2 linked regions of the Homo sapiens genome follow. The protein of the gene in region 1 interacts with the protein of each later gene in a pairwise test. Each region holds a gene or a part of one and is shown on either strand. Other genes may lie near its edges. The genes, in order: SPATA12 and CIDEC.

Region 1 (11,314 bases):
CTTCATCAACTCTTGTTATTATCCATCTTGTGATTATTGCCATCCTAAGTGGGTATGAAGTGGCATCTCATTGTGACTTTGATTTGCATTTCCCAGATGGCTAATGATGTTGTGCCTTCTTTCATGTGCTTATTGGCCATTTGTGTATCTTCTTTGGAGAAATGTATATTTGGTCTTTTATCTATTTTTAAATTGGATTATATGTCTCTTTATTATTGAGTTGTAAGTGTTCTTTATATATTCTGAGTTCAGTTCCTTATCAGCTATGATTTTAAAGTATTTTTTGCCCATTCTGTGGGTTATTTTTTCACTTTCTTGATGGTGTTCTTTGAAGTGCCAGGTTTTAATTTTGGTGAAGTTCAATTTATCTATTTTTCTTGGGTTTCCTGTGCTTTTGGTGTCATACGTAAGAAACCTTTGCCTGATGCAAGGTCATGAAAACTTATGCCTAAGGCATATTTTTTTTTTTTTTTTTGAGATGGAGTTTTGCTCTTTCACCCAGGCTGGAGTATAGTGGCATGATCTCGGCTCACTACAACCTCCACCTTCCGGTTTCAAATGATTCTCCTGCCTCAGCCTCTCAAGTAGCTGGGACTACAGGTGTGCATCATCACACCCAGCTGATTTTTGTATTTTTAGTAGAGACGGGGTTTCACCATGTTGGCCAGGCTGGTCTGGAACTCCTGACCTCATGATCTGCCCACCTTAGCCTCCCAAAGTGCTGGGATTACAGGCATGAGCCACCACGCCCAGCCATATGCCTATATATTCTTATAAGAGTTTTATAGTTTTAGCTCTTAGATTTAGAACTTTGATCTGTTTTGATTTGATGTTTGTATGTGGTGTGAGGTAGGGGTCTAGCTTCATTTTTTGCATATGGAAATCCTGTTGTCCCAGAACCATGTGTTGAAAAGACTCTTCTTCCCCATTAAATTGTTTTGACACTCTTGTCAAAAATCAATTTACTATAAATGTAAGCATTTATTTCTGCATTCTCAATTCTAGTCCATTCATCTATATGTCTATCCTTATGCCAGTATTGCTGTCTATACTGTCTTGACTACTATAGCTTTGTAGTAAGTTTTGAAATCAGGAAGTATGAATCCTCCAACTTTGTCCTTCTTTTTCTTTTTTCTTTCTTTCTTTCTTTTTTTTTTTTTTTTGTGACAGAGTCTTGCTCTGTCACCCAGGCTGAAGTGCAGTGGCATGATCACTGCTCACTGTAGCCTCGACCTCCTGGGCTCAAGCAATCCTCCCACCTCAGCCTCCCAAGTAGCTGGGACTACAGATGTGTGCAACCATACCCAGCTAATTTTTAATTTTTATTTATTTATTTTTGGTAGAGACTGGGTCTGGCTGTGTTACCCAGGCTGGTCTCAAACTCCTGGGCTCAAGTAGTCCTCCCACCTTGGCCTGCCAAAGTGCTGGGATTATAGGTGTTAGCCACTGTGCCCAGCCTGACCTTCTTTTTCTAGATTATTTTGGCTGTTCTGGATCTCCCTATGAATTTTAGGATCAGCTTGTTAGTTTCTGCAAAAAGAGACCTGAGATTTTGACAGGGGTTACATTGACTCTGTAGATCACTTGGGGAGTTTTGCCATCTTAACAATATTAACTGTGGAACCTAAATTCCTTTTTGCTGGTGGCACTGCTCACTCAGCTTCCCTAGTCATTGAGTCTGCTGAGTAGGCACTCTGAGACCCATCCATCAAACTGCACAGACAAAACTCCAGCGATGTAAATGTCTCTTTCCTTTTTGAAGAAAGTAACACAGTATACTGTAGTGTCTAATTTAAGGCTTGGGTAAGACATTTAACTCCTGAATTTGTGAAATGGGAGTGCATCTGGCACCTGGACACACATATGACAGATCTGGCTTTCCTTCATGCTAAGGATGGGATGGAGATCTCTAAGATACTCCCATAACCCCTTGCTTCATGCCTGGAGAAGTGTGGTGGGAACTGGGAGACCCCACAGCCCTGGAGGCACCAGGTGGTGATAGGAGAATTGAAGCCAGGCTCCATTTTATCTTGTTTTATCTGTTGGGCAAAGGGGTACAATTTCATTTGAGGAAAGAGTTCTGCTGCTAAAACAATCTTAGCCCCTCACCCCCAATTCACTCACATCATAGTTTGAAGAATGGAATAAAAATAAAAAGGGAGTAATATCACATATTAAAAGTTTAGTTTAGGCCAGGCGCAGTGGCTCATGCCTGTAATCCCAGCACTTTGGGAGGTTGAAGTGGGAGCATTGCCTCAGGCTAGGAGTTTGAGACCCGCCTGGGCAGCAAAGCGAGACTCTATTTCTATAAAACAATTAAAAATTAGTTGGGTGTGACGGCACATGTCTGTAGTCCCACATACTTGGAAGGCTAAGGTGGGAGGATAGCTTGAGCCCCGTTGTTTGACGCTGCAATGAGCTGTGCTCACACTAATGCACTCCAGCTTGGCGACAGAGCAAGACCCTGTCTCAAAAGAAAAAAAAAAGCTTAGTTTACACCCTGACATGTACTTATGTGTTCCAGATGTAATGCTTTGGCACAGCACAAATACATGATTTTATTTTCAAGAAAGAAATAATAAAAAATGGAGTGCCTATATTTGTATCACTTGGAACCTTGTTTTCTAAACTTAAAGAACAACCTGGGAAACTACATTTGAAACTTCAAATCCATTCATACCTCAACTCATCTGGGGTGAGGAGCTCTCATTTTAAACAAACAATGTGTGTGTGTGTGTGTGTGTGTGTGTGTGTGTGTTTGAGAGACAGAGATTAGAGTTATTTATTGCAGTTGTTTCAAAAAAGCAATTTAAAAAAGCATGAATTTGGACTGTGTTTTTAGTTTGTTTCTGGGAGAAGAGAAACTTACATGCAATAGAATATATGTTTTGAGGTCTTCAAAATCTCAGATCTAGGCCAGGCGTGGTGGCTCACGCCTGTAATCCTAGCACTTTGGGAGGCTGAGGCAAGTGGATCACGAGGTCAGGAGTTCAAGACCAGCCTGGCCAAGATGGTGAAACCCCGTCTCTGCTAAAAATACAAAAATTATCCAGACGTGGTGGTGAGTGCCTGTAATCCCAGTTACTAGAGAGAGGCTGAGGCAGAGAATTGCTTGAACCTGGGAGGCAGAGGTTACGGTGAGCCAAGATCACGTCATAGCACTCCAGCTTGGGTGATACAGCGAGACTCGGTCTCAGAAAAAAAAAAAAAAAAAATCAGATCTTTTGCCTTAGCAGATTCCCTTATTTAAGTTGTTGGAACCGGCAGTTCATAGGGATTTTGTTTCCATCCTTTAGTGAGGGGGGTGTGTGCGTGTGTGTGCACATGGAAAGTTAGGGGAAAAACACAATGATATAACCTAACCCCAAAACAAGGAAGCACGTTACACAGTTGAGGTTTGGCGCTTCAGTTCCTGCCCAGTCTCAGAAGGTACAGCTTGGCTGACCTTGTGTGACCTATCTCTATGACACATCTCCCAAGGGGGTGGGGAGGACTGTTTCTCTCCAGCATGGCTTTAGTTTTATAAAAGCCCTGTGCAGTCTTGCAAACTCAAATGGTTTTCTTAACAAATCACTCACATTTCATGTGTTCTGGGCTGGGCAGGGCCTCGCTAATCCTTGGCCAGCTTTGTGAGTCAGAAATTATTTAAATGATTGCCTGAGTCCTTTTGAGGCGAGAGAATTGGCAAGTTAATTTAGGGAGGTGCAATGACTCTTAAACAGCACTGCAGTGAGTGGCAGCATTGATAAATGTGTTAGAAGCTCTATTTTATTGTGATAATAAATGCTAATGAAGAAAATGAACGTATTACCTTTTAGAGTGAGATAAGAATGATGATGCTACCAAATTTTATTAAGCATTTATTGTGTGGTGGAGTATGGTGGCTTCTCCCATGTTTTTGACTGTGACCTATTGTAAAACATAGACTGCAACCTGGTAACCTGGTGTGTGTGTGTGTGTGTGTGTATGTGTGTGTGCGCGCATATCTGAATTATTTGGTGAAACAATAGTTACCCTATGCGTGTCTAGTGTCCTCTGGGCTCAAGTGATCCTCTTGCCTTGGCCTCCAGAGTAACTGGGACTACAGGTGCATGCCACCACACCGGCTAATTTTTTGTTGTTGTTTGTTTGTTTTTGTTTTTTTTGAGACGGAGTCTTGCTCTGTCGCCCAGGCTGGAGTGCAGTGGTGTGATCTTGGCTCACTGCAAGCTCTGCCTCCCAGGTTCACGCCATTCTCCTACCTCAGCCTTCTGAGTAGCTGGGACCACAGGAGCCCGCCACTTTGCCTGGCTAATTTTTTTGTTTTGTTTTTTTTTTTTAGTAGAGACGGGGTTTCACCGTGTTAGCCAATGGTCTCGATCTCCTGACCTCATGATCCGCCCGCCTCGGCCTCTCAAAGTGCTGGGATTACAGGCATGAGCCACCGTGCCTGGTCTCACGCCGGCTAATTTTTTAAATTTTTTGTAGAGACTGGGTCTCTCTGTATTACCCAGGCTGGTCTCAAACTCCTGGCCTCATGTGATTTTCTGGCCTCAGCCTCCCAGTGTGCTGGGATTACAGGTGTGAGCCACTGCACCCACCCTAAAGTTGCATTTGAAAACAAATATATCTACTATGATAGCTTTGATCAGTATATAGACAAATATTATTATTATTATTATTATTATTATTATTATTATTTTGAGACAGAGTCTTGCTGTCACCCAGGCTGGAGTGCAGTGGCGCAATCTTGGCTCACTATAAGCTCTGCCTCCTGGGTTCACGCCATTCTCCCGCCTCAGCCTCCCGAGTAACTGGGAGTACAGGCGCCCGCCACCACGCCCGGCTAATTTTGTTTTTGTATTTTTAGAAGAGACAGGGTTTCACCGTGTTAGCCAGGATAGTCTCGATCTCCTGACCTTGTGATCCACCCGCCTTGGCCTCCCAAAGTACTGGGATTACAGGCGTGAGCCACCGCGCCTGGCCGACAAATGTTATTCTTTCTGGGTTGCCATATTTTGTGGTTTTTAAAAAATATATTTTTATTCATTTATCTGGTGACTTGAAATTTCATGCAAGTACAGGTCCTTACAGACAATTTCTATTGGAAAATCACTTATTTTGGGTGTGTATTAGGGTTTGGAGAGAAACAGAACCAACAGGATGTGTGTCAATCAATCGCTCATCTATCTATTGAGAGGTTGATTTTTAGGAATTGGCTCATGTGATTGTGGAGGCCAGGTGAGTCAAAAATCAGCAAGGTAGACTGGCAGGCCGGAGACCCAGGGAAGAGTTGCAGTGAGCCCAAAGGCTCTCTGGGTAGAATTCTTCCTGCTCTGGGAGGTCGGTCTTTTTCTATTAAGGCTTATAGCTGATTGGATAAAGCCCACCACATCATGGAGAATAATCTGCTTTACTCTAAGTCCACTGATTTAAATGTTAATCTCATCTAAAAAATACCTTCACAGAAATGTCTAGAATGTTTGACCAAATAGCTGGTTACCATGGTCTAGCCAAGTTGACACATAAAATTAATCATCACAGTGGGTAAAATACTGTTTGAGGTTGTTCAGAAGAAAGGAAAAAGGCAAAAGCCTGGGCGCGGTGGCTCACGCCAATAGTCCCAGCACTTTGGGAGGCCGAGGCGGATGGATCACTTGAGGTCAGGAGTTCAAGACCAGCCTAGCCAACATGGTGAAACCCCGTCTCTACTAAAAATACAAAAATTAAGCCAGGCATGGTGGCGGGTGCCTGCAATCCCAGCTACTTGGGAGGCTGAGGCAGGTGAATCGCTTGAACCTGGGAGGCGGAGGTTGCGGTGAGCCAAGATCATGCCACTGTACCTGGGTGACAGAGTCAGACTCTGTTTCAGAAAAAAAAAAAAAGAAAGAAAGGAAAAGTGTAATGGTTGGAAGTGGAAGTGTGCTGTTGGTACAGATAGGAGAACATTTCGGAAAGAATTCCCTCCCCTTTGATTGACTGCAAAATAAGTCCCTCCCTTGTTCTCTTGCAATTACAGGTGGACCAGATGGGTGGGCAGATTGGCAGTGGGGGTGCAGAGTTTCTTGTTCTGATTGAAAGGATTTTTTCTTACATTTTAGGGTTTTTTTTTTTTGTTTTGGAGACAGAGTCTCACTGTGTTGCCCTCCTGGCCTCAAGTGATCCTCCTGCCTCAGCCTCCTGAGTAGCTGGGATTACAGATGTGAATTACTGTGCCCAGCTCTTAGATTTCATTTTAAGACTGAAGACCTGAGAGTTCATGGGCCTAAGTAAAAGGTGCCATTTATCTGCAACAAATTGGTGCATGCTCCGTAGATCTAGCTGTAGGGGGCTGTGTGTGCTAATGCAGCATTTGTGACTCAGCCGTAATGAGGATGACCTTGCCTCTCCTGTTCCGCAGGCTACCACCTAGCTGTGGTGGGTCACTGGCCACAGAAACTGTAGGTATCTGGGGCTGCCTGGGTGGGAACTCAGCCTGTATGAGAACATGGTATTTGGAAGACATTAAACATTTATTATAGCTTTTATTTTTATTGAGGTATAATTAACATACCACAAAATTGACCCTTTTCAAGTACCCAGTCTGTTTTTTAGCACATGCATACGGTAGTGCAGATATCACCACTAGTTCCAGAATATTTATCATCCTAAAATACAGTTTTTCTTTTGCAAGTAATTTCTTTTTTTTTTGTTTTGTGATGGAGTCCTGCTCTGTTGCCCAGGCTGGAGTGCAGTGACATAATCTCAGCTTACTGCAACCTCTGCCTCCTGGGCTCAAGTGATTCTCCTGCCTCATCCTCCTTAGTAGCTGGGACTACAGGTGCACACCATCACACCCGGCTAATTTTGTATTTTTCGTAGAGATAGGGTTTCACCATGTTGGCCAGGCTGGTGTCGAACTCCTGACCTCAAGTTATCTGCCCGCCTCGGCCTCCCGAAGTGCTGGGATTACAGGCGTGAGGCGTGAGCCACTGCGCCCGGCCTTTTGCAAGTAATTTCAACATTTAAGACCATGGCCTACTGGATTGGTCCCATCAGCAAATAAACATGCAGTTATTTCTCCCAACTTAAAAACAGCAGAACCCTCTCTCCACCCTACTTCTCCCTACAGTTATACACCCATTTCTCTTCAGTTTAGAGCAAAACTTTTTGAAATAATTTTCTGGACTTACTAATTTTTTGCCTTCTATTGTGTCTCAAAAAATTGTGATAAAACACACATAACGTAAAATTTACTGTGTTGACTATTTTTAAGTTTTCAGGTCAGTAGTGTTGCGTATACTGATATTATTGTGCAACCAATCTGCAGAGCTTTTCATCTTGTGACACTGAAACACTGTATCCATTAAACAGCAACTCCCATTCCCCCCTGCCCCTAGTCCCTGGAGACCAGCATTCTACTTTCTGTCTCTGAATTTGACTGTTCTAGATACCTCATATAAGTGGAATCATGCCATATTTGTCCTTTTGTGACTGGCTTATTTCACTCAGCATAATGTGCTCAAGGTTCACCCATGTTGTAACATGTGTCAGAATTTCCTTCCTTTGGGCTGGGTATGGTGGCTCATGCCTGTAATCCCAGCACCGAGGAGGCGGATGTTGAGCCCAGGGGTTCAAAACCAGCCTTGGCAACATGGTGATACCCTGTCTACAAAAAATACAGCAATTTGCTGGGCGTGGTGGCATGCACCTGTAATCTCAGCTACTTGGGGGCTGAGATGGGAGGATCACTTGAGTCAGGGAAGTTGAGGCTGCAGTGAGCCGTGATCTTGCCGCTGCATCCCAGCCTGGATAACAGAGGGAAACCCTGTCTCCAAAAAAAGAAAAAAAAAGAAAGAAAAAAAAAAGAAAGAATTTCCTTCTTGGTTTTTGGTTTTCTGTTTTGTTTTTTGAGACGGGGCCTCACTCTGTCACTGATTGCTGCAGTGGCACAATCTCAGCTCACTGCAACCTCTACCCCCCAGGCTCAAGCAATCCTCTGACCTCAGCTTCCGGGTTAGCTGGGACTACAGGCATGCACCACTATGCCCAATTAATTTTTTTGTATTTTTGGTAGAGACAGGGTTTTGCCATGTTGCCCAGGCTGGTCTCGAGCCCCTGAGCTCAGGCAGTCCCCCTCCCTGGGCCTCCCAAAGTGCTGGGATTACAGGCGTGAGCCAGCACAGCTGGCATGGAATTTCCCTCCTTTTTAAGGCAGAATATTATTCAATTCTATGCATTTGCCACATTTTGTTCTACCATTCATCTGTCATGGACACTGAGTTGCTTCCACCTTTTGTCTATTGTGAATGATGCTGCTATCCCATTCTCTTTTGAGCCCCTCATTTCAGGCAGGCTTGGCTTCCACTCCCCTCTCCCCAGATATCTCTTACCAAGGTCTACAGTGAGTGCCTGGTTGCTCATCCCAATGGCCTGTTCTCTGTTGCCATCCTTCCTGACTACCAGCAGCGTGTGATGGAGTTGGTCACTTTCTCTTCCTCGAAGCCTTGTCTCACCTGGCTTCTAGGATGCCCGACTCTCCTGATCCTCTTCCCACATCTCTGTTAAGGAGCACCCCAACCTCCTGGTTGCTCAGGCCCAAAGCCTGGGGCGTCATCTTTGACTTTTGTATCTCTCTTCTCTTCACTTGTCAAAAGACTCTACTTGTAGAGTGGCCACTGCTCCCCTCCCGCTCCTACCACCCTCCAGGTCATTCTCCCCTCTCACCTGAATGACTGCGGCCTCCAAGCCTCTGCCTTTACCTCCTTTCAGCTTGTTCTCAACTCAGAGTCAGAGGGAACCTTCTGAAGGGTTGGCTACTTCTCTGCTCAAAGCCCTCAAATAGCTCTCATTTCACTGCAACAAAGCCAAAGCCTTTAGGGTGGCTGGCTGCAAGGCCCCATGTGATCTGGCTGCATTTCCTCTCTGACTCCTCTCTTAGTTTGCCCTTCCCCCTCATAACCGCACTCTAGCCACATCACCTCCATGCTGTTCCCTGCGTGGGCACCTCAGGGCCTTTGCACCTGCTATTCCCGCTGCCCAAAATGCACCTCTCCCAATATCTGCAGAGCTTGGTCCCTCATTTCCTTCAGCCTTCCCTGGTCATCGTGTCTAAACCGTTACCACTGCATCCCAACTTCCCCTTTGCCTTCATTGCTTTTTCTCCTTACACTATCGTTATCCAATATAAGGTGTATTTTGCTTATTTATCTTGTCATCTGCCTCCCCCACTAGAATGTAAATTCCATGAGGGCAGGGATTTTTCTTCTATTGTGTTCCCTGTCATGTCCCCAGTGCCTTGCCTGGTACAGACAATAATTTGTTGAACCCGTAAAGAAAAGTTTGGTAAACAGATTAAAAGCCATTTGATTCTTCTATTATGATATAATTCTTGCCTATATTTTTCTTACCTGTGAATTATTACATATGTGTATGTATGTGTGTGTGCATGTTTGTTGTGTGTGTGTGTGTGTGCATGTGTGTAGACAGAGAAACAGCGAGTCCTGTCATTCCCACCAGATATTCCTGCTTGTTAAACAGCTACATAGTGTTTTGCTGAGTGGCTAGAGCAGCTTTATTTAACCTTGTTTTGTTCAGTACTACTGGGCAGCTTCCAATCTTTTGCTATTGTAGATTATGCAGCATCTGTGCTGGGCACTTGCCCTGCTTCCTTCCCTCTTCTCTGAAAGGCTTCCCCATGCTCCTGAGCACCCCCCGCCCCCGCCGCCGTGCTCCTGAGCCTAGCCTGAGCCCGAGTGGGGGCTGTGGTCCTGGCTGGGCCTATCATGGTTCCCCTCCCCTCGGCTGTGGTAGCCGGTCTGGAGCTAGACACAAGCCACCCTTGCCAGGCTGTGGGCTTCCTCAGGGTCATCCTAACCCACTCAGAAGTGGCAGAGAAGGTGCTTGAAGGCACTCACCCAGCGCTAGAGCAGTGAGGACAGGCCCAGAGTGTGGAGCTGCGAGGGGAGGGTTGGGCACATTGCCTTTGGATCTAGTCACATGACTGAGCTGCTCCAGGGATCTTCCTACAAATCCCCCTTCTCACCCATCTAGATGGAGTTGGATTTCTCACTGCTAGCAGTGAGTCTAGACAGATCCAATCCAGTGGAGCATCCCTGCCCCACTCTCTTTTTTTACTTGATCCTTAGTCCAGAGCAAGGAAAGATGTGGAAACCCTCCCAAAGGCATTATTCAGGGCAGAAAATGCTTGTAGGCAGAGCAGCACCTTGTTTTTGTCACAACCGGAGAAACAATTTAAATCTGAACCTATGCGGGCTCAGATACTGATGCTGCCATCTGAGAAGGAGGACCTCTCTCACCTCAGGTTCTTTGTCTGTAAAATGGGGATGAAAATAATTATACCACACCTCAGGACTAAATGAGTTAATAAAAATTCTTAGAGTGGTGAGTAACACAGGATGAGAGACTGCTCACTGAGAGTTAGCTGTGGTGGCTGCCAGAATCCTAAAAGTGTAACAGGAGTTAAACATAGAGGTATCATATAGTCCAGCAATTCCAAATCTGGGTATATACCCAAAGAAATGAAAGCAGAGATCCAAACAGATACTTGCATTCCCATGTTCCCAGCAGCGTTATTCACAATAGCCAAAAGGTAAAAATAATACAAATGTCTATTGACAGATGAATGGATAAACAAAATGTGGTATGTACATACAATGGAATATTATTTAGCCTTAAAAAGGAAGGAATTTCTGGTTGAGTGAGATGGCTCACACCTGTAATGCTGGCACTTTGGGAGGCCAAGATAGGAGGATCTCTTGAGCCCAGGAGTTTGAGGCTGCAGTGAGTTATGATCGTGCCACTGTACTCCTGCCTGGATGACAGGGCCAGACCCCATTGCAAAAAAAAAAATAATAATAAATAAAGGAATTTTTGACACATGCTACAACATGCTGATCCATGAAAGTATTATGCTACATGAGAAAAGTCAGTCACAAAAGGACACTTACAGGGGGTACCTGGAATAGCAAGTTTAGAGAGAGAAGTATTAATACAGTAGGGGCTGGGAGAGGGGCAGGTGCAGGAGGAGTTACCGCTGAATGGGTACACAGTTTCTGTTTAGAATGACAACAAAGTTCTGGAAATGGATAATGGTAAGAGTTGTACAATATGGTGAATGTGCTAGATGTCACTGAACTGTACACTTAAAAATGGTTAAAGTGGTATGTTTTATATTATATTTTACCACAATAAAAAAGAGTATAAGAGGAGTTGGACTCTCCTGGACTTTTTCTTTATAGATTGAACTTATGTCAAAATGTAGCACAGTGAAAAAACAGGCACAGGCCAAAAAAGAAGTGGTGGTGGTGTGTGCCCATGTGTGTGTGTGTGTTTC
Region 2 (12,107 bases), about 47 Mb from region 1:
AAGGCAGGTGGATCACGAGGTCAGGAGATCGAGACCATCCTGGCTAACACGGTGAAACCCTGTCTCTACTAAAAATACAAAAATTAGCCAGGCGTGGTGGCAGGTACCTGTAGTCCCAGCTACTCCAGAGGCTGAGGCAGGAGAATGGCGTGAACCTGGGAGGTGGAGCTTGCAGTGAGCTGAGATCACGCCACTGCACTCCAGCCTGGGCGACAGAGTGAGACTCCGTCTCACCGTCTCAAAAAAAAAAAGTGTCATGACACTTAGGTTAACTGCCTGGGTTTCAATCCCAGTGAATGCACTTGGCCTCTGCCTCTGGAGAATGGAAATAGTGGTAACTACCTTAAGGCTCTCATCAGAAGAAATGCTGCAAATCACCTGGCAGATTACATGGTCCATAATAAGAATAGGCTCCTCAGGACATTTACAACCACATCATTAGTTATCTTGGAATGATGGCATTATCACGTCACTTTTCTTGCTTGGATTCACTAAGGAACATATCTTGCTACTTAAAACTCTTTCAGTAAGGGCCTGGGATCAGCAACACACCAATAGCAATGAACATATCTAGCTCCCTGGTCTCGGTTTCTGAATACCATTCTCCACTAAAATGAAACAGACCTTAGAAAAAAATGGCCAAGAATTAGGGCAGGGAAAATACAAGATGAGCCTGTAATACCTTGTTGCACCAGAAAGAAAGCATGCAAAGAATGCTGGGGACATGATAAAAAGATGTTGAAGTCTGGGACAACTTGAGCATCAATAAATAATCTGTTGCCATTCATGTATGCTATTAAAATAGAAATACCTGTGTCCCTTTTGAAACAAATAAATAAATAAATAAATAGGCCAGATGCAGTGGCTCATGCCTGTAATCCCAGCACTTTGGGAGGCCGAGGTGGGAGGATCACTTGAGGCCAGGAGTTTGAGACCAGGCTAGGAAACATAGCTAGACCCCCTCTCTATTTAAAAAAAAATTAAAAATTAGGTGTGAGATCGTGTACCTATAGTCCTAGCGAGTCGGGAGGCTGAGGTGGCAGGATCACTTGAACCTAGGAGTTTGAGGCTGCAGTGAGCCATCATCACATCACTGCATTCTAGCCGGGGCAATGGAGCGAGACCCTTTCTCTAAAATAATAATAATAATAATAATAATAATAATAATAATAAGTGAATACAGTGACAGATGCAGAATTCAATGTTTACTTAGTACAAAGTACTGACCTAGAAAATAAATAACAGAGGGGAAAATGTTACATAGAGAAGCTTGACTGTACCTACCACTTTATTCAAATAATCAAAACAGTAAGGTGACAAAAATTGCATATAATTTTGCAGTGACAATCTTTTTAAAATTTTTTTTAAACAGGGTCTCGCTCTGTCACACAGGCTGCAGTGCAGTGGTGCATTCACAGTTCACTGGAGCCTCAAATTCCTAGGCTCAAGTGATCATCCTGCCTCAGCCTCCTGAGTAACTGGGACTACAGGTGCACACCACCATGTCCAGCTAATTCCTGTATTATTTTTGTATAGACGGGGTCTCACCATGTTGCCCAGGCTGGTCTTGAACTCCTGGGCTCAAGGACTCCTCCTGCCTCGGCCTCCCAAAGTGTTAGGATTACAAGCATGAGCCACTATGCCTGGCCTGCAACTTATTTTTATCATATTCCTGCCAAAGATATAAACCTGAATTAAAGAAATGGATAGGGCCAGGTGTGGTGGCTCACACCTGTAATCCCAGCACTTTGGGAGGTCGAGGCAGGCAGATCACGAGGTCAGGAGATTGAGGCCATCCTGGCTAACACGGTGAAACCCCGTCTCTACCAAAAATACAAAAAAAATTAGCTGGGCGCGGTGGCGGGCGCCCGTAGTCCCAGCTACTCAGGAGGCTGAGGCAGGAGAATGGTGGGAAGCCGGGAGGCAGAGCTTGCAGTGAGCCGAGATAGCACCACTGCACTCCAGCGTGGGCGACAAAGCGAGACTCTGTCTCAAAAAAAAAAAAAAAAAGAAAAAAGAAATGCATAGTTCCAAACCAAGGGACAGTAAACAAAAATAGCTGGCTCATAATCTTCAAAATGGTCAAGGCCATGAAAGTCAAGGAAACACTGAAAAACTGTTCCATACTGAAGGAAACTAAAGAGACATACAATTAAATAAACACTTGATCCTGACCTGGATCCTTTCACTATAAAGGATATTATTGGGACAGCTGGCAATGCTTGAGTTTCAGGATTCAATTACAGTAATGTAATACTGTTTCCTGATTGTAATAGTTGTATGATGGCTATCCTTGTTTGTAGAAAGGAGAATATCCTTGTTTGTAGAAAATGCACATTGAAGTATCCAAGAGTAATAGGCAGCAAGTTGGCAACTTACTCTCAAATGATTCAGGCAAAGTTTTGTATTGTATTTGTACTGTGTAACTTTTGTTAGTTTGCAATTGCTTCCTCCAGGGGAAGCCACATATAACAAGGACACTTTGATGCAGGGGGTGCCCAGACCTCAGGGCAAAAAAACAGCACCAAGTCCAGGTTAGAGTATGAACAGGTCCTTTTGATTGAAAGCACAAGAAATGTAGTCTGCGCAGCCAGAAGCCTTACAAAGGAGGGGAAATTGGCTCTCCGGAAGAACAGAACTAATACACAGAAATAGGGGAGGAAACTTAGAATAAAGAGGTTAGCTATGATTGATTTCTGTATGTTAAATAGAGCCTAATAATTGGAAGCCTAATCCAAACATTTGACCTGTACCAGGCACCTGGGATTGCAGATGAGAGGGTCCCACCCCTATAGAGATGATCAGTGAGGACAGGCATGGTGGCTGACGCCTATAATCCCAGCACTTTGGGAGGCAGAGGTGGGTGGATTACCTGAGGTCGGGAGTTTGAGACCAGCCTGGCCAACATGACAAAACCCCATCTTTACTAAAAATACAAAAATTAACTGGGCGTGGTGGTGCATGCCTGTAGTCCCAGCTTCTTGGGAGGCTGAGGCATGAGAATCACTTGAACCTGGGAGGCGGAGACTTCAGTGAGCTGAGATCATGCCACTGCACTACAACTTGGGTGACACAGCAAGACTCCATCTTGGGCTGGGTGTGGTAGCTCACACCTGTAATCCCAACACTTTGGGAGGCCAAGGTGGGTGGATTGCCTGAGCTCAGGAGTTCGAGACCAGCCTGGGCAACACAGTGAAACCCTGTCTCTACTAAAGTACAAAAAATTAGCTGGGTGTGGTGGTGTGTGCCTGTAGTCCCAGCTACTCAGGAGGCTGAGGCAGGAGAATCGCTTGATTCTGGGAGGCAGAGGTTGCAGTGAGCCAAGATCGCGCCATTGCACTCCAGCCTGGATGACAAGAGTGAGACTTCGTCTCAAAAAAAAAAAAAAAAAAAAAAAAAAACTAATGGAAGTGGGAAGCATGAGATTTTCCAGCAAGAAAAATGTGCCCTGAAAATACCACTGACCTACTGATAGTGTAGGATGGTAACGTACTGCCCCCCTCCTGTTACCAAACAGACATCAGTCATTGCTAATTAGTTGGACAGCTCTCCAGGTGGGCATTACCATCTGTAGGCGCTGGTAGGTATCAGAAAGGAAACTGTGCCACCTTCTAAGCCCTGACCTCCATCTCTGCTGAATCCCAGCTCACAGCTGGGCTGTGCAACGCGCAGGTGCTCTCACCTTGAGGAGGAGGTCCTCAAGACTGTAAGCCATGATGCCCTTCCTCACGCTTCGATCCGCCGTGCTTACGCGGCAGGGCCGGGCCCTGGGGGCCTTGGGGCTGGGCTCCGACAGCAGCTGCTGGGTCACCACAGAGGTACGCACTGACACATGCCTGGGGCAGTTGAAGCATCAGGGTGAGCCACCCACTTTGCCCAACCCTTGCCCACCACACAGGGGAGCCACCTCCCCACCCCTCCTGACTGGGCTCATGATCAGTCAACCCCCCATCACCTGCTAATCCTGCCCTAGTCTTACTCAGAAGCCTGCTAGAAGCCAGGCACGGTGGCTCATGTCTGTAATCCCACACTTTGGAAGGCTGAGGTGGGCAGATCACTTGAAGTCAGGAGTTCAAGACCACCCTGGCTAACATGGTGAAACACCATCTCTACTAAAAATACAAAGATTAGCCAGTGTGGTGGCACATGCCTGTAATCCCAGCTCCATAGGCCGGGACACAAGAATTGCTTGAACCCTGGGAGGCGGCAGAGGTTGCAGTGAGCTGTGATGGTGCCACTGCACTCCAGCCTGGGCAACAGAGGGAGACCTCGACTTAAAAAAAAATAATAAAATAAAAATTAAAAAAAGCCTGCTAGAGCAGTGCATCTCAAACTTCGAAGGACACATAAGTCACCAGGGCTTCTGTTCAAATGCAGATTCTGACTGAGTAGACCTGGGTGAGGCCTGAGATTCCAAATGTTTCACAAGTTCCCAAGTGATGTTGATAACGCTGGTTCTCAGACCATGAGGAGTAAGTAGCAAAGTAATAAAAGACCCACCCCACATTCCCCATTTACCACCTGTCTTGGCCTCACTCTCCTCACCTGTAAAGTTGGATGAAGTGGGGGAAGCCTGAAGTCAATGTAAGGTATTTTTTTAACTGAAGCACTCAATTTAGAACCAAAGGAAAGGAAAGGACCTGGATTTTACAGTCAGGCAGTCCCAATTTAGAATCTTGGCTCCCTCATGGATTTGCTGGGTGATTGAGAGCACCCACTATGTGCCTCAGTTCTCTCACCTATTAATTTGGTATAATAACCCCCACTTCCCAAAGTTGTTGTGAGGCTTACATGAGATCAGGAGTAAAAGCACCAAGCATAGTGTCTACTCCTTTTTATGCATGGTGTGGTGGTGGTGTAAGCAGCAGCATTAATATCACCCAGGGACTTCTTGGCAGTGCAAAATCTCGGGTCCCACTCCAGACCTCCTGAATCAGAATCTGCACTTGAACAAGGTCCCCTGTGACCTGTATACCCATTAAAGTTTGAGAAGTTCTGGCTTACAGCTCATAGGTGGCTCTCTTTCCATTCTGCCCATGACTTTCCTCACCTGGAGAGGGACTTGGGGTAGAGAAGGCTAAGGGACTTCATGGCGTATTCCATCCTTGTCAGCTGGACTGCGTTGGACCTGGGAAGGAGGCAGAAACAATTCATCAGGGTGAGATGAGAGGGTTCCCATCTCTCTCATTGTTAGGCAAGGTGCAACCCAACCCCTGTTCAGCAACCTTCCTCCCTATTCTTCTATCCCAACTCACACATACCTCCCCCAGCCCTTCTCCTGTCCGGCCCCATGCATGCCAACCAAGACCAAGCTGGAGACCCCACCCCTCTCCCCACCGGGTGCTCAGGCTCAGCCTCACTCAGCAGCTGCTGCTCCTGCCCCAGTCCCACTCACTCCATGTTTCTCATCCCCTGGCTCTGGTCACACTGAGCAGATAACCCAACTCAGGGCTGAAGAAGCCTTGCCCGATTTGTTCCTGTCCATGGGGACAGAGTCCACTTTACGCTGGCAGGAGGTGAGTCACACCACCTCACACTTCTGGGGACCGTTCCCTCACCTCTAGTCCAGAGACCTCACAGGCAGGCAGCCCAGTCAAAGCCTCCTCTCTCCCATGGGTCCTTGAGCAATCCGAGCCCCTTCCTGAGGCTTCACAGTGGCCAAAAGAACATTCTGTGATGATAGAGGCATGCCTTGTACATACTCTCCAATACCATTGCTACTAGCCCCATGTGGCTATTGAGTATTTGAAACATAACTAGTGTGATTCAGGAGCTGAATTTTTTTTTTTTTTGAGTTTCGCTCTTGTCACCCAGGCTGGAGTGCAATGGGGCGATCTTGCTCACTACAACCTCCGCCTCCTGGGTTCAAGCAATTATCCTGCCTCAGCCTCCCCCGTAGCTGGGATTACAGGCACCTGCCACCACGCCCAGCTAATTTTTAGTTTAGTTTCGTTTTGTTTGGATTTTTAGTAGAGACTGGGTTTCACCATGTTGGCTAGGCTGGTCTTGAACTCCTGACCTCAGGTGATCTCCCTGTCTTGGCCTCCCAAAGTGCGGGGATTACAGGCGTGAGCCACTGCACCTGGCACAGGAGCTGTATTTTTTACTTTATTGAATTTTAACTAATTTAAATTTAAATAGCCACATTGCCATGTGGCTGTTGGCACCCATATTAGATCACAGGTCTAAGCAGATAGCCCTGGGCTCATCTGTCACCACTTTTTCTCCTAAACCTCTGTGCTCCAACTCTTGAAGGGCCCAACCCTTTGCACAGATAGTTCCCTCCACCTGTAGTGCCCTTCTCTGATCCAGGACGAAATTTTTGCAGCCTTGAAGCCTCAGTTTCATTGCTTTCCACTCTTTAAAAGGAAAGTCTTCTTAGACCACTCCCAAAATTATTACACCTTCATCCTGCTCTTCCTAGCCAAGGGTGCCTCTGGGTCTGTTTCTGCTGTAGCCCCTCAGTCCCTGGATGCCTGGCCCTGAGGTCCTCTTCCTATTCGAAGCTCCCGGCACAGGTAGGGCTTCGCAGAGCAAGGGGCACAAGGGGTGGACATAAAACAAAAGTCCCCTTGCCAGCTGGGGACAATCACTCTTTGCTTTTAACAATTTGGGGGACTTTCCAGACCAGGCCCCACAGAGGCAGAAAGCCCCTTTCCCACTTAGCACTGCAGAAGCTCTAGTCCTAGCTACGTGGGAGGCTGAGGCAGGAGGATTCTGCTTGCCTCAGCCTCACCCACTTCGTATCCCTAGCAAAACTCTGCCAAGAGCTACCTAACCTGCTCTCCAGGAGCAAAGAAAAAAAAATCCCCAAACCCAAAACAATAACAAACTCCTTACCTCCCCCTCACAGCCTCCTGGAAATACTGCCCTGTCCCGCCCAGCCCTCCCTTCATTTATTTCCAGCCCCCATGAAGCTCCTCCCCAGCCTTCAGCCCCAGCTGGGGAAAAGAGCTTGGGGTGAGAGCTGCAAGCCAGCCTGACTTCCAGAAAAGGCCTAAAAGGAGGGGAGAAGGCATGTTTCGAAAGCTTTGGCAAAATGGATGGCCCATGACATGAGATCAAGCACAGAGGGCACAGAAAGCAGGCAGATGTGGGTTGTGGTCCCAACTCCACCCCATATCAGCTTGCTTGAGCTTAGACAGATCACTTGACTTCTGTGAGCCCGTTTCTCTTCTCTGTGTAATGACGATAATGATTCTTGTTTTATAGGGTAGTGGTGAGGATTAGTGACAATAAAAGTAAAGGGGCACAGTGGCTCATGCCTATAATCCCAGTGTTTTGGGAGGCTGAGGCGGGAGGATTGCTTGAGGACAGGGGTTGGAGGACAGCCTGGGCAATAGAGTGAGACCCTGTCTCTGAAAAAAAAAAAAAAAAAGAAAAGAAAAGAAAAAAGAAAAAAGTAGCCTGGGTGCCGTGGCTCACGCCTGTAATCCCAGCACTTTGGGAGGCCGAGGCAGGTGGATCACTTGAGGTCAGGAGTTTGAGACCAGCATGGCCAACATGGTGAAGCCCCGTCTCTACTAAAAATAGAAAAATGAGCCAGGCGTGGTGGTGTGTGCCTGTAATCCCAGCTATCTGGGAGGCTGAGGCAGGAGAATCGCTTGAGCCTGGGAGGCAGAGGTTGCGGTGAGCTTAGATCACACCACTGCACTCCATTCTGGGTGACAGAGTGAGACCCTGTCTCAAAAAAAAAAAAAAAAAAAAAAAAGTCCGGGCACGGTGGCTCACACCTCTAATCCCAGAACTTTGGGAGGCCGAGGTGGGCAGATCACAAGGTCAAGAGTTCGAGACCAGCTTGGTCAATATGGCGAAAACCCCATCTCTACTAAATATACAAAAATTAGCCGTGCGTGGTGGTGGGTGCCTGAAATCCCAGCTACTCAGGAGGCTGAGGCAGGAGAATCATTTGAACCCGGGAGGCAGAGGTTGCAGTGAGCCGAGATCACGCCACTGCACTCCAGCCTGGGTGACAGAGTGAGACTCTGTCTCAAAAAAATAAAAATAAATAAAAATAAAGGCTTTGCAAACATAAACACTCAATGGATCGAAGTGATTATTAGTATTACTGATAATTTTTTATTTTTATTTTATTATTTTTAATTTTTTTGTCTTTTTCTCAATTTGATAATGTACATATTAAATCATAGCAGAGAGTAAGACAAGCTGAAATGTGGAGTGGTTAAGAGTGTAAGATCTCTGACCCAGCAGTTCCACTTCTGTGTGTGTGCGTGTGGTGTATGTGTGTCATACAGAGCACACCTGTTGTCCCAGCTGCTCAGAAGGAGGCTGATGCAGGAGGATCACTTGAGCCCAGGAATTAAAATTTAGCCTGAGTAACATAGGGAGACCCTGTCTTTACAAAAGAAAAGAAACAAAACCAAAACCAAACAAAATTACATATATATGTGTATATATATACACACACACATATATATATACACATACATATCCAAAAGAAATGAAAAATATGTCTACACAAAAACTTGTATGTGAATATCCATAGGATTATTCGTAATAGCCAAAAGGTAGAAACACATGAATGTTCAATTTATAAATCGATTTTTTAAATGTGCCTATCCATACATGGCATATTATTTATCAAAAAGGATCCATACTACCACATGGAGGAACCTTGCAAACAGTACAGAAAGTAGACAAAGCCAGTCACAGGAATCATATACATATTGTATGATTCCACTTATATGAAATGTCTAGAATAGGCAAATCTATATAAAGACAAAGTAGGGCCGGGCGCGGTGGCTCACGCCTGTAATCTCAGCACTTTGGGAGGCTGAGGTGGGCGGATCACGAGGTCAGAAGATCGAGACCATCCTGGCTAACACGGTGAAACCCGGTCTCTACTAAAAATACAAAAAATTAGCCGGGCGTGGTGGCGGGCGCCTGTAGTCCCAGCTACTCGGGAGGCTGAGGCAGGAGAATGGCGTGAACCCGGGAGGCGGAGCTTGCAGTGAGCCGAGATCGCACCACTACACTCCAGCCTTGGGCGACAGAGCGAGACTCCGCCTCCAAAAAAAAAAAAAAAAAAAAAAAGACAAAATGGGTTAGTGGTTGCTTCGGGCTGGGAGTAGGGGATGGGAGGGGAATGGGGAGTGGCTGCTAATTAGTACAGGGTTTCTTTCAGGGTTTTCTTTTCTTTTTTTTTTTTTTCTTTTCTTTTTGAAACGGAGTCTCGCTCTGTCGCCCAGGCTGGAGTGCAGTGGCACCATCTCCGCTCACTGCAAGCTCCGCCCCCCAGGTTCCCGCCATTCTCCTGCCTCAGCCTCTAGAGCAGCTGGGACTACAGGCGCCCGCCACCACGCCCGGCTAATTTTTTGTATTTTTAGTAGAGACGGGGTTTCACCGTGTTAGCCAGGATGGTCTCGATCTCCTGACCTCATGACCCACCCGGCTGGGCATCCCAAAGTTCTAGGATTACAGGCAGGAGCCACCGCACCCAGCCTTTTCTTTTTCTTTTCTTTCTTTTTTTTTTTTTTGAGACAGAGCATTGCTCTGTCACTCAGGCTGGAGTGCAGTGGCACGATCTCGCCTCACTGCAAGCTCCGCCTCCCGGGTTCACGCCATTTTCCTGCCTCAGCCTCCCCAGTAGCTGGGACTACAGGTGCCTGCCACCACGCCTGGCTAATTTTTTTGTATTTTTAGTAGAGACGGGGTTTCACCGTGTTAGCCAGGATGGTCTTGATCTCCTGACCTCGTGATCTGCCTGCCTCAGCCTCCCAAAGTGCTGGGATTACAGGCGTGAGCCACCGCGCCCGGCCTTCTTCTTTTTTTTTTTTTTTTTTTTTTTTTTTTTTTTTTTGAGACAGAGTCTCGCTATGTCACCACCCAGGCTGGAGTGCAATGGCGCGATCTCAGCTTACAGCAACCTCTACCTCCCACAGGCGTGTGCCACCACACCTAGCTAATTTTTGTATTTTTAGTGACCTCTGCCTCCCGGGTTCAAGTGATTCTCCTGCCTCAGCCTCCCAAGTAGCTGGGATTACAGGCGCCTGCCACCACACCCGGCTATTTTTTGTATTTTTTAGTAGAGACGGGGGTTTCACCACGTTGGCCAGGCTGGTCTCGAACTCCTGACCTCAAGTGATCTGCCCGCCTCTGCCTCCCAAAGTGCTGGGATTACAGGCATGAACTACCACGCCCGGCCAGGTTTCCTTTTTTTTTTTTTTTTTTTTTACCTATTAATTACAAATTATTTCAGTGATGTTTGCACAACCCTGTAAATATACTAAAAATCATTGACTTGTACACTTGAGTGGGTGATGTGAATTCTATCTCAATAAAGCTGTGTTTTTTAAAAAAACATTTAACCTCATCTTTCTTTTAACACAGGGTTTTTCACACTTTGGTACATCAGAATCAGCTGGCGGGTTTGTTAAAATTCAGATTGCTAGGCCCCACCCCAGAATTTCTCACTTAGTAAGTCTGGGGTGGTGCCTAGGAATTTGCGTTACTAAAGGTTCCCAGATGATTCAGAAGCCATGGCTGCTCAGGGAGCCCACTTTGAGAACCAGTGGTCTAGCGCTAGCTGTGTGAGCTAAATTTTCTAAGCTTCAGTTTGATCCAACAACTGGGGATAAAAATAGCTCTACTGCATCTGGTTTCCATGCAGATTAAAAGAGATAATCGTGAAATGTACTTGCTACAGAGTCTAGTGCATCCTTAGAGCTCAATAAATGGAAATTATTATTATTTAGATCTAAATCCTTCCCTGGAGGGGCTCTCAGGCAACCATTCATTCATTCATTCAGGAAATATTTATTAAGCACTTACTATATGCCAGTCCTTCTGGGGCTAAGAATACAACAGGAAACAAGACAGCCTTGTCCCACACTTCAAGGAGCTGACATTCCTGAGGAAGGTGGGAACTCAGACCATGAATAAATATGCAAATAAACAAAATAATTTCAGATAATGATGTTCTGGGAAGAAAACAAAACGAGGTGATATAATAACAGCTGGAGAGTTAGATTGGCCTATGCGTTCAAGAAACGCCTCCAAGGAGGTGAGCTTTGAGGTAAATCCTGACTAAATCCTGGGGGATGATCAAGACAAAGGAAACATCATTGCAAAGGATTTGAGAAGGGAGCATGAAGAGAGAGTGAGGAGACAGGAACACATATAACTTAAACTTAAGGACAGACCAAGAGCCAGGAGAAAGGTACAAGCAAAACCCTTTAGGGAAGAGGTTCTGGAGAAAGAGTCGGGGCCCCTCCCTTCAACAGTCATGGCTCAAATATTTATTGCTCTACTGTGTACTTGATGTCCTGAGATAGATAGGCCAATAGATGACTCAGGAGAGGTCTGGCCCTGACAGAAAACCAGACACAGAAAGACGAAGATAACCACGAGCTACAGCCAGAGAGCACTGTCCAGGGATGAAGGATAAACCCGGGGATTCTTCACAGCAATTAGGAGAGGGAGACGGTTTTGGCTCCATTGGAATTTATCTATTCAACCAGCATTTCTTTCTTTTTAAATTTTTTTTCTTTTTTTTCTTTTAATAGAGATGGAGTTTTGCCATGTTGCCCAGGCTGGTCTCGAACTCCTGGGCTTAAGCGATCCTCCCGCCTCGAGCTCCCAAAGTGCTGGGATTACAGGCGTTGAAATTTTTACACTATGCCAGACACTATGAGCTGCTGGGGACATGGATGACTTAGTTCTTGTCCCTGCCTTTGGGGAATTCACATTCCAGTGAGAAAGGCAATGTCTGAGCATGGTTCTCAAACTCTGTAGTACATGAAAATCATCTGGGACACCTCGGATTGGAAAAGGACTGTGGCTACAACTCAAAATTGAGAAGCCACTAAATTTAAAAATATATTCTGCATGTTAAATTTATAACACCATGAACAAAAAGTAAAAAGACATCAAATAAACAGGGAAAATACTGTATATTCGAACTAATATCACAGACAAGAAGCTAGTCTTTCTCTTTCTCTCTCATTCTTTCCTCCCTACTCTATCTACATATAAATTAAGGCCCGGGCGCCGTGGCTCATGCCTGTGATCCCAGAACTTTGGGAGGCCGAGGCAGGCGGATCACAAGGTCAGGAGATCAAGACCATCCTGGTTAACACGGTGAAACC

The links.
Region 2: the proteins of SPATA12 (region 1) and CIDEC interact in binary tests that used the Homo sapiens proteins (3 or more experiments, as listed by UniProt).

Annotation. Positions count from the first base shown.
Region 1 is NC_000003.12:57,060,821-57,072,134, reverse strand, and holds part of SPATA12 (spermatogenesis-associated protein 12), read right to left. Parts: intron 1-11,314.
Region 2 is NC_000003.12:9,873,384-9,885,490, forward strand, and holds the start of CIDEC (lipid transferase CIDEC), read right to left. Parts: upstream 6,871-12,107; 5' UTR 6,841-6,870; intron 5,674-6,840; exon of another isoform or gene 5,672-5,673; 5' UTR 5,559-5,671; intron 5,430-5,558; exon of another isoform or gene 5,410-5,429; coding exon of another isoform or gene 5,396-5,409; exon of another isoform or gene 5,338-5,395; intron 5,129-5,337; coding exon of another isoform or gene 5,104-5,128; coding exon 5,051-5,103; intron 3,837-5,050; coding exon 3,683-3,836; intron 1-3,682. UniProt on the Homo sapiens protein: Lipid transferase specifically expressed in white adipose tissue, which promotes unilocular lipid droplet formation by mediating lipid droplet fusion. Lipid droplet fusion promotes their enlargement, restricting lipolysis and favoring lipid storage.